2 linked regions of the Homo sapiens genome follow. The protein of the gene in region 1 purifies or fractionates together with the protein of each later gene. This does not show direct contact. Each region holds a gene or a part of one and is shown on either strand. Other genes may lie near its edges.

Region 1 (4,372 bases):
TCCGCCTCAGCCTCCCAAGTAGCTGGGATAACAGGCACGCACCACCACGCCCGGCTAATTTTTTTTTTTTTGTATTTTTTTTTAGTAGAGACGGGGTTTCACCATATTGGCCAGGCTGGTCTCAAACTCCTGACCTTGTGATCCACCCACCTGGACCTCTCAAAGTGCTGGGATGACAGGCGTGAGCCACCACGCCCGGACAAGTAGTGCCAGTTTCAAGAGCCCAGAGAGGAGAAATGAAATGATTGAGCTGGCATCACTAATCAAAGGAACTCAGAAAGGCTACCTAGAGCTGTAAAATTAGGGAAGAGGAATAAACAAAGGGCTTCAGGGAGAAAATGGTAGAAGACTTCAGACAGAGTTGGAGGAAAGGAACTAGGTATCCAGAAAGGAGAAAGAACTCCAGCTGAGGAAAAGGAAACCAGATCTACCCAAGTTCTCAGAACACGAAAGGAATGAGAAAGAACATCTCAGGAAATTAAAGGAAGGAGGAACCAAGAAGAAAACAAATCCATAAAGAAATCAACAAGAAATAGAAAAATCAGTGATACTAGCTGGTATCGAAAAAAGATCCTTACAATTTAAACAGATATTGTCAGTTTATTCAGTCATCAGGACATTACATCCCATATAATAAGATGCACACCAAACATTTGCAGTGTAGAAAAATGTTACTTAATCTTCACAACAACCCTAGAACCGAGGAATATAGAACCCGAGATTACCATGGTGAGGTACAACAAAGCACATAGGTGCAATATAAAAGGCCTAAAATCGCCGGGCATGGTGGCTCACGCCTGTAATCCCAGCACTTTGGGAGGCCGAGGAGGGTGGATCACGAGGTCAGGAGTTCGAGACCAGCCTGACCAACATAGTGAAACCCCCATCTCTACTAAAAATACAAAAATTAGCTGGGCATGGTGGTGCTTGCCTGTGATCCCAGCTACTCGGGAGGCTGAGGCAGGAGAATTGCTTGAACCTGGGAGGCGGAGGTTGCAGTGAGCCGAGATCGCGCCACTGCACTCCAGCCTGGGCGACAGAGTGAGACTCCGTCTCGAAAAAAACAAAAACAACAACAAAAAAAGGCCTAAAATCCAGAACGTGGGAGACAGCCTAGATACAATTTAGAACAGGGATGATCTTTAGATTTGTGAAGGCTATGAAATCAAATGACAAGTCTACTTAAGTAGAGTTTTCTGGTGAGAGGGCTCAGGGCCTTTAATAAGAATTTCAATGTGAGTTTATGAGGAACTGATGTATCACTAAGCTATTAATTTATGTTGAGAAGGGATTAGTACGAATGTGATATTCATTCTTAAAATCAGCTCAAGAGATTCAAATGAAAATGAATGCAAAAACACTTTGAAAAGTTTTATATCTAGGTTATAGTTTTGCATACATCTACATACTATCTGAATATCTTTTGGACATAAGTATTATCTGTCTGATTACACAGTAAACACCTTAAAGACTCCGACTAACACTGCTACTTTGTTGCTCTTTTTATATCGAACTCCCCTCCCCCAGCAATTTTTAGATACATTCTCTCAGGTTCCTGATGTTGCCTGTCAAAGTTATGAATACACCAAAAGGCACTTACTTTTTGGCTTAGATTTTGGTTTTTCAATAAATATTAAAGACACTTTTGTATTCACTAATACTAACCCCTTAAACTGGAGAGTCAGCAAAACAGTCTTTCAAAGAAATCACACATTCTAATAGAACGAAACAAGCTTACACGACACCAATTCTGTAATAAATAACATGCGTAAGTTTCCAACCTGAAACTCCCTAAGTAAAAGTCACTAGAAACAAAAACTGAAACACCGGGTTCCTGACACCCCACTCCCACACTGAAGCTCGAATTACTTGAGGCTGAATTTTAAAACACTATTACTTCTCTGTGACTATGAAAACAAATCTATGAACACATATTTCTTACTTACATTTAACCGACGCTCCCCACCCATCCCTTTAAATTAGGCAGAAAACTGAAAACCACTAAAAGCATTACATTTTGGTGTCTTCTTTTAAAAGTTATTTTAAATTACTGCTATTAAAACCCCCCCTCCAAAAAAAAAAAACCCTCATAACAGAATCAAATGAGCCCTAAGGCGAAGCAGGAGCTACAGTGGGGGAAGGGAATTTTAAAAAGACATCCGTGTTAGTGCAATTAAAGTGCAGTCCTCGAACCGCTAAACATACTGGCGCCTTGTATAATTTTTTTTTCTTCCCAAGGGTAAAAAGCGGTAAGAAAGGCTTAGACAATAAAACCCAGAGGTCAATTTTAAATATGCTGGGACAGTGAGCAACTATCGAGAAGCATCAAGGTCAACGCAACCTAAGGGGCTCCTCTGATCTTTTTGCGGTAGGTATTTCGCCAGACTTCAATGGGCGGGAACCGAGTGGGGGGCGGGAAAGTTGGGGGAAAGAGGGTGGAAAAGAGGAGGGTGGAAGGAAAGAGATGAGTAATGGAAAGAGGAGGGGAGGAAAGAGGAGTGCGAGAGCAGGCCGCGGAGGTGCGGGCAGAGGGGAGGCCGGGCGAGGAGTAGGGGAAGGGAGCCCCGGCCTTGGCCCCGGCCCCGCCCAGCCCCTGGGAGGCCTGCGCGCCTTCCCGCCCCCTTACCAGCTGGAGCAGGAAGCCCCAGAGTAGGGCGGCCCCGGCAGGGGACAGCCGCCGCTGCGGCCCCATCGGACTGGTGGGTGCCGGGTGGGACGGCACGGTGCGGCGCAGCTCACTCGGCGGGGTAGGCTCGGAGTCCCGCCGCTGCGCTGCCTCCGTGGCCGGACCGGACCGGACAGGCGCGGGCGGCCGGGCTACGACTGGACCGCCGCTGCTACAGCGGCCGCCACAGCAGCGCGACTTCCTCTTCCGGCCCCGCCCGTAAGATGCGGAAACCCCCGCGCCGGGCTCGGAGAGTCCCAGCGCTCTCCCGGTATCCAGGCGTCCCGGCGTCCCGGCGCTACGAGGCCACCGGCTGCGGGTCTGAGCCTGTCGCTTTCCGGCTGCCCGACTTTAACTCACACCGAAGCCTGGCGGGAGAACGGATTTCTCAAGGCTCGGAAGTGTCTGAGCGTCTGCTCGGTTCCCCAGTAACTACCCGAGTGTTGCATGCAGCCAGAAATCTAAGGGTCACCCTAATTCATCTGCCTGTCATTTGTTCCTGGCCACTCTGACTCACCACATAACCCAGATCCATCCACTTTCTCCAGAACTGCTGCCACCACTCTATCCAGGCCACCAACTTCCCTCTCCTCCAAACGGGTCTCAGTTTCCCCTCCGGACAGCCCAGTAGCCACATAACAGTCCCAGAGCCATCTTTCAAAACATATAAGTCAGATCATGTCTCTCTCTATCACACTTGGAATAAAATAAAAACTTGGCCGGGTGTGATGGCTCACACCTGTAATACCAGCATTTGGATGGCCGAGGTGGGCGGATCACAAGGTCAAGAAATCGAGACCATCCTGGCCAACATGGTGGAACCAAGTCTGTACTAAAAATACAAAAAATTAGCTGGGCGTGGTGGCACGCACCTGTCGTCCCAGCTACTCGGGAGGCGGAGGCAGTAGAATCGCTTGAACCGGGTAGGCGGAGGTTGCAGTGAGCCGAGATTGTGCCACTGCACTCCAACCTGGGCGACAGAGCGAGACTCGGTCTCCAAAAAAAAAAAAAAAAAAAAATCAAAACTCTACTCTAGCCTGCAAAGGTAAATCTGGCCCCTGCCTTCCTGTCTCCCCATCTTCACTACTTTCCCACACTTTAAGGCGCACGGACCTTTGGCCCTCCCGGCCTTTGCTCTGGTGGGCCGCCCGGACTTTGCTCTGGTAGTCCTCCCTGCTGGAGTGCTCTTCTCTCCAAAGCTCAGAATGCCTGCCTTGTTGACATTCACTTATCAGCTTCAATGTCGCTTCCCCAGACGGGACTTCCTGACATACCCAATCTAAAGTACCTGTCCAGTCACTTTCTTTTCTTTTCCTTTCTCTTTTTTTTTTTTTTTTTTTTTTGAGACGGAGTTTCGCTTTTCTTGCCCAGGCCGGAGTGCGATGGTGCAATCTCGGCACACTGCAACCTCCGCCTCCCAGGTTCAAGCAATTCTCCTGCCTCAGCCTCCCCAGTAGCTGGGATTACAGGCGCGTGCCACCACACCCGGCTAATTTTGTATTTTTAGTAGAGACGGGGTTTCACCATGTTGGTCAGGCTGGTCTCAAACTCTCGACCTCAGGTGATCCACCCGCTTTGGCCTCCCAAAGTGTTGGGATTACAGGCATGAGCCACCGCACCCGGCCTGTCCAGTCACTTTCATATTATTGTTTATTTTAATTATCTGCACAGCACTTTTCATTCTATGTATAGGTTCATTTATTTATG
Region 2 (3,815 bases), on another chromosome or scaffold:
TATTTCTAGTTCAAATACAGCAAAATCCAAAATGCTTCAAAATCCAAAACTTTTTTTTAGCTCCAACCTGATGACACAAGTGGAAGATTGTTACATCTGATCTCATGACACATCATTGAAAATATCATATACAGTTGCCTTAAGGCTGCATGTATAAGGCATATATGAAACATAAATGAATTTCATGTCTAGACCTGGGTTCCATCACAAAGATATCTCATTATGTATATGTAGACATTCCAAAATCAGAAAAAATCTGAAATTCAAAGCACTTCTGGTCCCAAACATTTTGGATAAGGGATACTCAACCTGTATGGGCTTAGATCGTATCTAAAAGTTACTCAATTAGGCATGAAAAAGAATTATTTACCACTTATTCGTTAACATCTTAAACTGGTATTTTAGTGTTCCCAGGTTCTATTTAGTCTCTTGGCCAAAGTCATGGTGAAAGAAACAGCTTTAAGAATGTGTAAAAGCCTTAATTCATAAACCTGTTGTTAGAATTAGCAAGATATATTCAAATACTCTTAATTTTAGAAATGTTCTCTTTATTTTAAGGTCTTGTGTGAAGGACACCTTGCTTTGTAAAATGATATTTCTTTGGGGCCATTACCTTAACCTGTATCCATTCCTTCATGAATTTTAACTTGTATAAGGTGGCTTGTTCTAAAAACCTAAGTGGGTAAATATAAGAAATGAATGGTAATAAAGCAGTTAGTATCATACCCGTCTTTATCCATGCTACATTTTTTATTTTTCTCAGTCTTATTTTTCTACTTTCAAAAAGATAATGTATCATATAATAGGGATCATTATAAAGCAACTTTTCATACTTTAAAATTGAAAATTACCAGCTAGTAAGTTCAGAACAAAATTACCAGCTAGTAAGTTCAGAACAAAATTACCAGCTAGTAATGCAGAATAAATGATAAAAGTTTTACTCTCACCATTTTTTACCTGTTGATAAAATGATGGATTTAGAGTAGGCAATGATCAGCAGTCACTACTAAAACCATTAAGTAAAAGGCTGATGGGGAACTTTATACTGAGTGGATCAGACTGAATGATCATTCACAAATGGAGAGATAACTAGACATTATGTGCCTTATCATAATATGCAGTAAGAAGTACACAACATTGACTACTAGACGTTCCCACCCAGAACATTGCACCTGAATTCCATCAAGTCTCTAGCTCCAAATGCCAGTTTACAAGAAATACAGAGGATAAAGGAATAACATGGGAATGCAATCAACAAAATCCAGGACGTGGGAAATGCCACAGGATAGGGGTTGATGGCAAGGAAAAAAGGAAAAACAAGGAAGAAAGCCTAAAGATTAATGAACACTTACATCAGCCAAATGATTGTGTTAACCTTACTTGGATTCTTACTTGAAAACCAACTTTGAAACAATAGGGGAAATTTGAACACTATTTCCTGACTTTAAGGAACTGTTTTAGATTATTTCATGTGTTATAATACTATTGGGGTTATGTTTTTAAAAAGTGTTATCTTTTAGAAATAAAGTATAAAAGTATTTGTAGCTGAAGTGATAAAATATCTGAGATTTGCTTTAAAAATAATCGGGGAATGTAGATGAAGCAAGATTAGCCATGTGTTAATCTTTGTTGACATGGTGGGGGTTCATTGTACTTTTCTCAATACTTTTGAATATATATGGAAGTTTTCACTGTAAAAGTTTTTTAAAAATCACATCTCAGGCCAGGCGTGGTGGCTTACGCCTGTAATCCCAGCACTTTGGGAGGCCGAGGCGGGCGGATCATGAGGTCAGTAGTTAGAGACCAGCCTGACCAACATGGTAAAACCCTGTTTCTACTAAAAATACAAAAATTAGCTGGATGTGGTGGAGTGCACCTGTAATCCCAGCTACTCAGGAGGCTGAGGCAGGAGAATCACTTGAACCTAGGAGGTGGAAGTTGCAGTGAGCCAAGATTGCGCCATTGCACTCCAGCCTGGGTGACAGAGCGAGACTCCATCTCAAAAAAAGTCACATCTCAAAAGTTGTAGAATGCATGTAATTTAATTTCTGTGATTTTCTCTAATCCAGTAGTTCTTAACCCATACCCCATGGACAGGCTTGAAGGAGTTCCTAAATATTCTGCATTTGGGTCAACTCCTTGCCTTTATGTGTACTTTCCAGGTGAAGAATCCTTGGGCAATATGCCATTTTGAGAATATAGAGAAAGCAAATCCTAGAAGCACATCTCTCTCTAGCTCCTCATCACAAATTAGGAATCATTTTAGCACAGTTTTGCAAATTTTTCATTCCTAGGGGCCTGAACAAAGCAAGGACAACAAAAATATTTGACTCTTCTAATAGGTTAATGCAGTTTGTTGGCCTCATAATTTCTTACATTTTTTAAAAGCACTTTTAATAGAATATTTTAATAATTATTCCTTTCATACTTACTTTGGCAGAACTTCATTAAACATTATTTTCTAATTTCTATATTCCTTAACTAAAATTAAAACAAACTTAGATTTGTTTTTAAAACTCTTAATACAGGCTTGTTGCATAAAATAATAATAAAACATATATTTTACCACTAGGATTAAGTTTGCAGCAGTAGAAAAATATTAAACCATGGTATACAAAAAAACTAGTCATTTAACCTTTCTCAAAACAGATGGTATAATAAATGTATAAAAAGGCAAGCTGTTATCAGCTAAAGGCTCACAAATTGATTACACAGTGAAACTGAAACTTGCATCCTGTTGGGAACATACATATTGGTTTAGTTGACTGGCATGAGGGAAAAGGCTGATTTAACAAATAGATAAATGTAAAAAAACAAAGTCATTCCTATTCTGATAGATCCCTTTCAGATTTAAAAGTTACTAACGATTTTGATGTTGTGGCTGTTTTAAACATAGTTCAAAGAACTTTGACTAATTCAGCTTTTTTTTGTACTGTGCTTTGTTTATTTTTATAGATATTTGGGCTTTGACTTATATTCTCATTGGTGAGCTCACTGCCATTTTCTTCCTAATTCTTCTTTAAAGAACTTGGGCTGGAAATTCTGTAGTCACCAACCTTAGCTGATAAGTATTTCTGCTATTGTTAGCTTAGTGTTCCATCTGCCCCCTTACTGATGCCATGGCTGTGACATCTCAGTTGGGGAAAACAGCTGCTTCATGAGATCTCTAGCCTTAACAGTTGTCCCAGTGAAAATGAGCAGGGGGGTTTCATTGCAAAGACAACTGGCATAAATGTATGAATGAATGCCAGATTAGTAGCATGTTAGTCAAAAGAGGAATTGAGATCAAATTGAAAGAAAAGCTGAATATGATAGATGAAGTCTACAGAAAGTATCACACATACTGACTGAAAATATTTCTCTGCAGATGGAATCTGCCTGTGTTTCAATTCACGAAGCTCTGAAGTCTGTCATCGATTATCAGACTCATTTCCGTTTAAGAGAAGCTCAAGGCCGAAGCCGAGCAGAGGATCTAAATACAAGAGTGGCCTATTGGTCAGTAGGAGAAGCCCTCATTCTTCTGGTGGTTAGCATAGGGCAGGTATTTCTTTTGAAAAGCTTTTTCTCAGATAAAAGAACCACCACAACTCGTGTTGGATCATAACTACGTTTTGAGAATTGATGCACCATTGCCACTGTAATATTGCTGTCCTCTAATTAATTTTAGGTACTGAAGAACTTAATATTGGCAACATTTTTAAATCCTTACTCATACACTTGTTGGGAGGGATGTACAATGCATATTCCCAAACTGTGGAAAGGACACCTTTTTTTATTTGTAAAGGTGGAAAAACTTTGGAACTCATTTTGGGCTA

Evidence for each region.
Region 2: the proteins of SPPL2A (region 1) and TMED7 fractionate together in Homo sapiens (co-fractionation; one large-scale study listed by BioGRID). This does not show direct contact.

What each region holds. Positions count from the first base shown.
Region 1 is NC_000015.10:50,762,842-50,767,213, forward strand, and holds the start of SPPL2A (signal peptide peptidase-like 2A isoform 1 precursor), read right to left. Parts: upstream 2,866-4,372; 5' UTR 2,693-2,865; coding exon 2,627-2,692; intron 1-2,626. UniProt on the Homo sapiens protein: Intramembrane-cleaving aspartic protease (I-CLiP) that cleaves type II membrane signal peptides in the hydrophobic plane of the membrane. Functions in FASLG, ITM2B and TNF processing.
Region 2 is NC_000005.10:115,615,998-115,619,812, reverse strand, and holds part of TMED7 (transmembrane emp24 domain-containing protein 7 precursor), read left to right. Parts: intron 1-613; exon of another isoform or gene 614-674; intron 675-3,367; coding exon 3,368-3,604; 3' UTR 3,605-3,815. Other genes in the region: TMED7-TICAM2 (TRAM adaptor with GOLD domain isoform 1 precursor), read left to right, coding at 3,368-3,495. UniProt on the Homo sapiens protein: Potential role in vesicular protein trafficking, mainly in the early secretory pathway. Appears to play a role in the biosynthesis of secreted cargo including processing and post-translational modifications.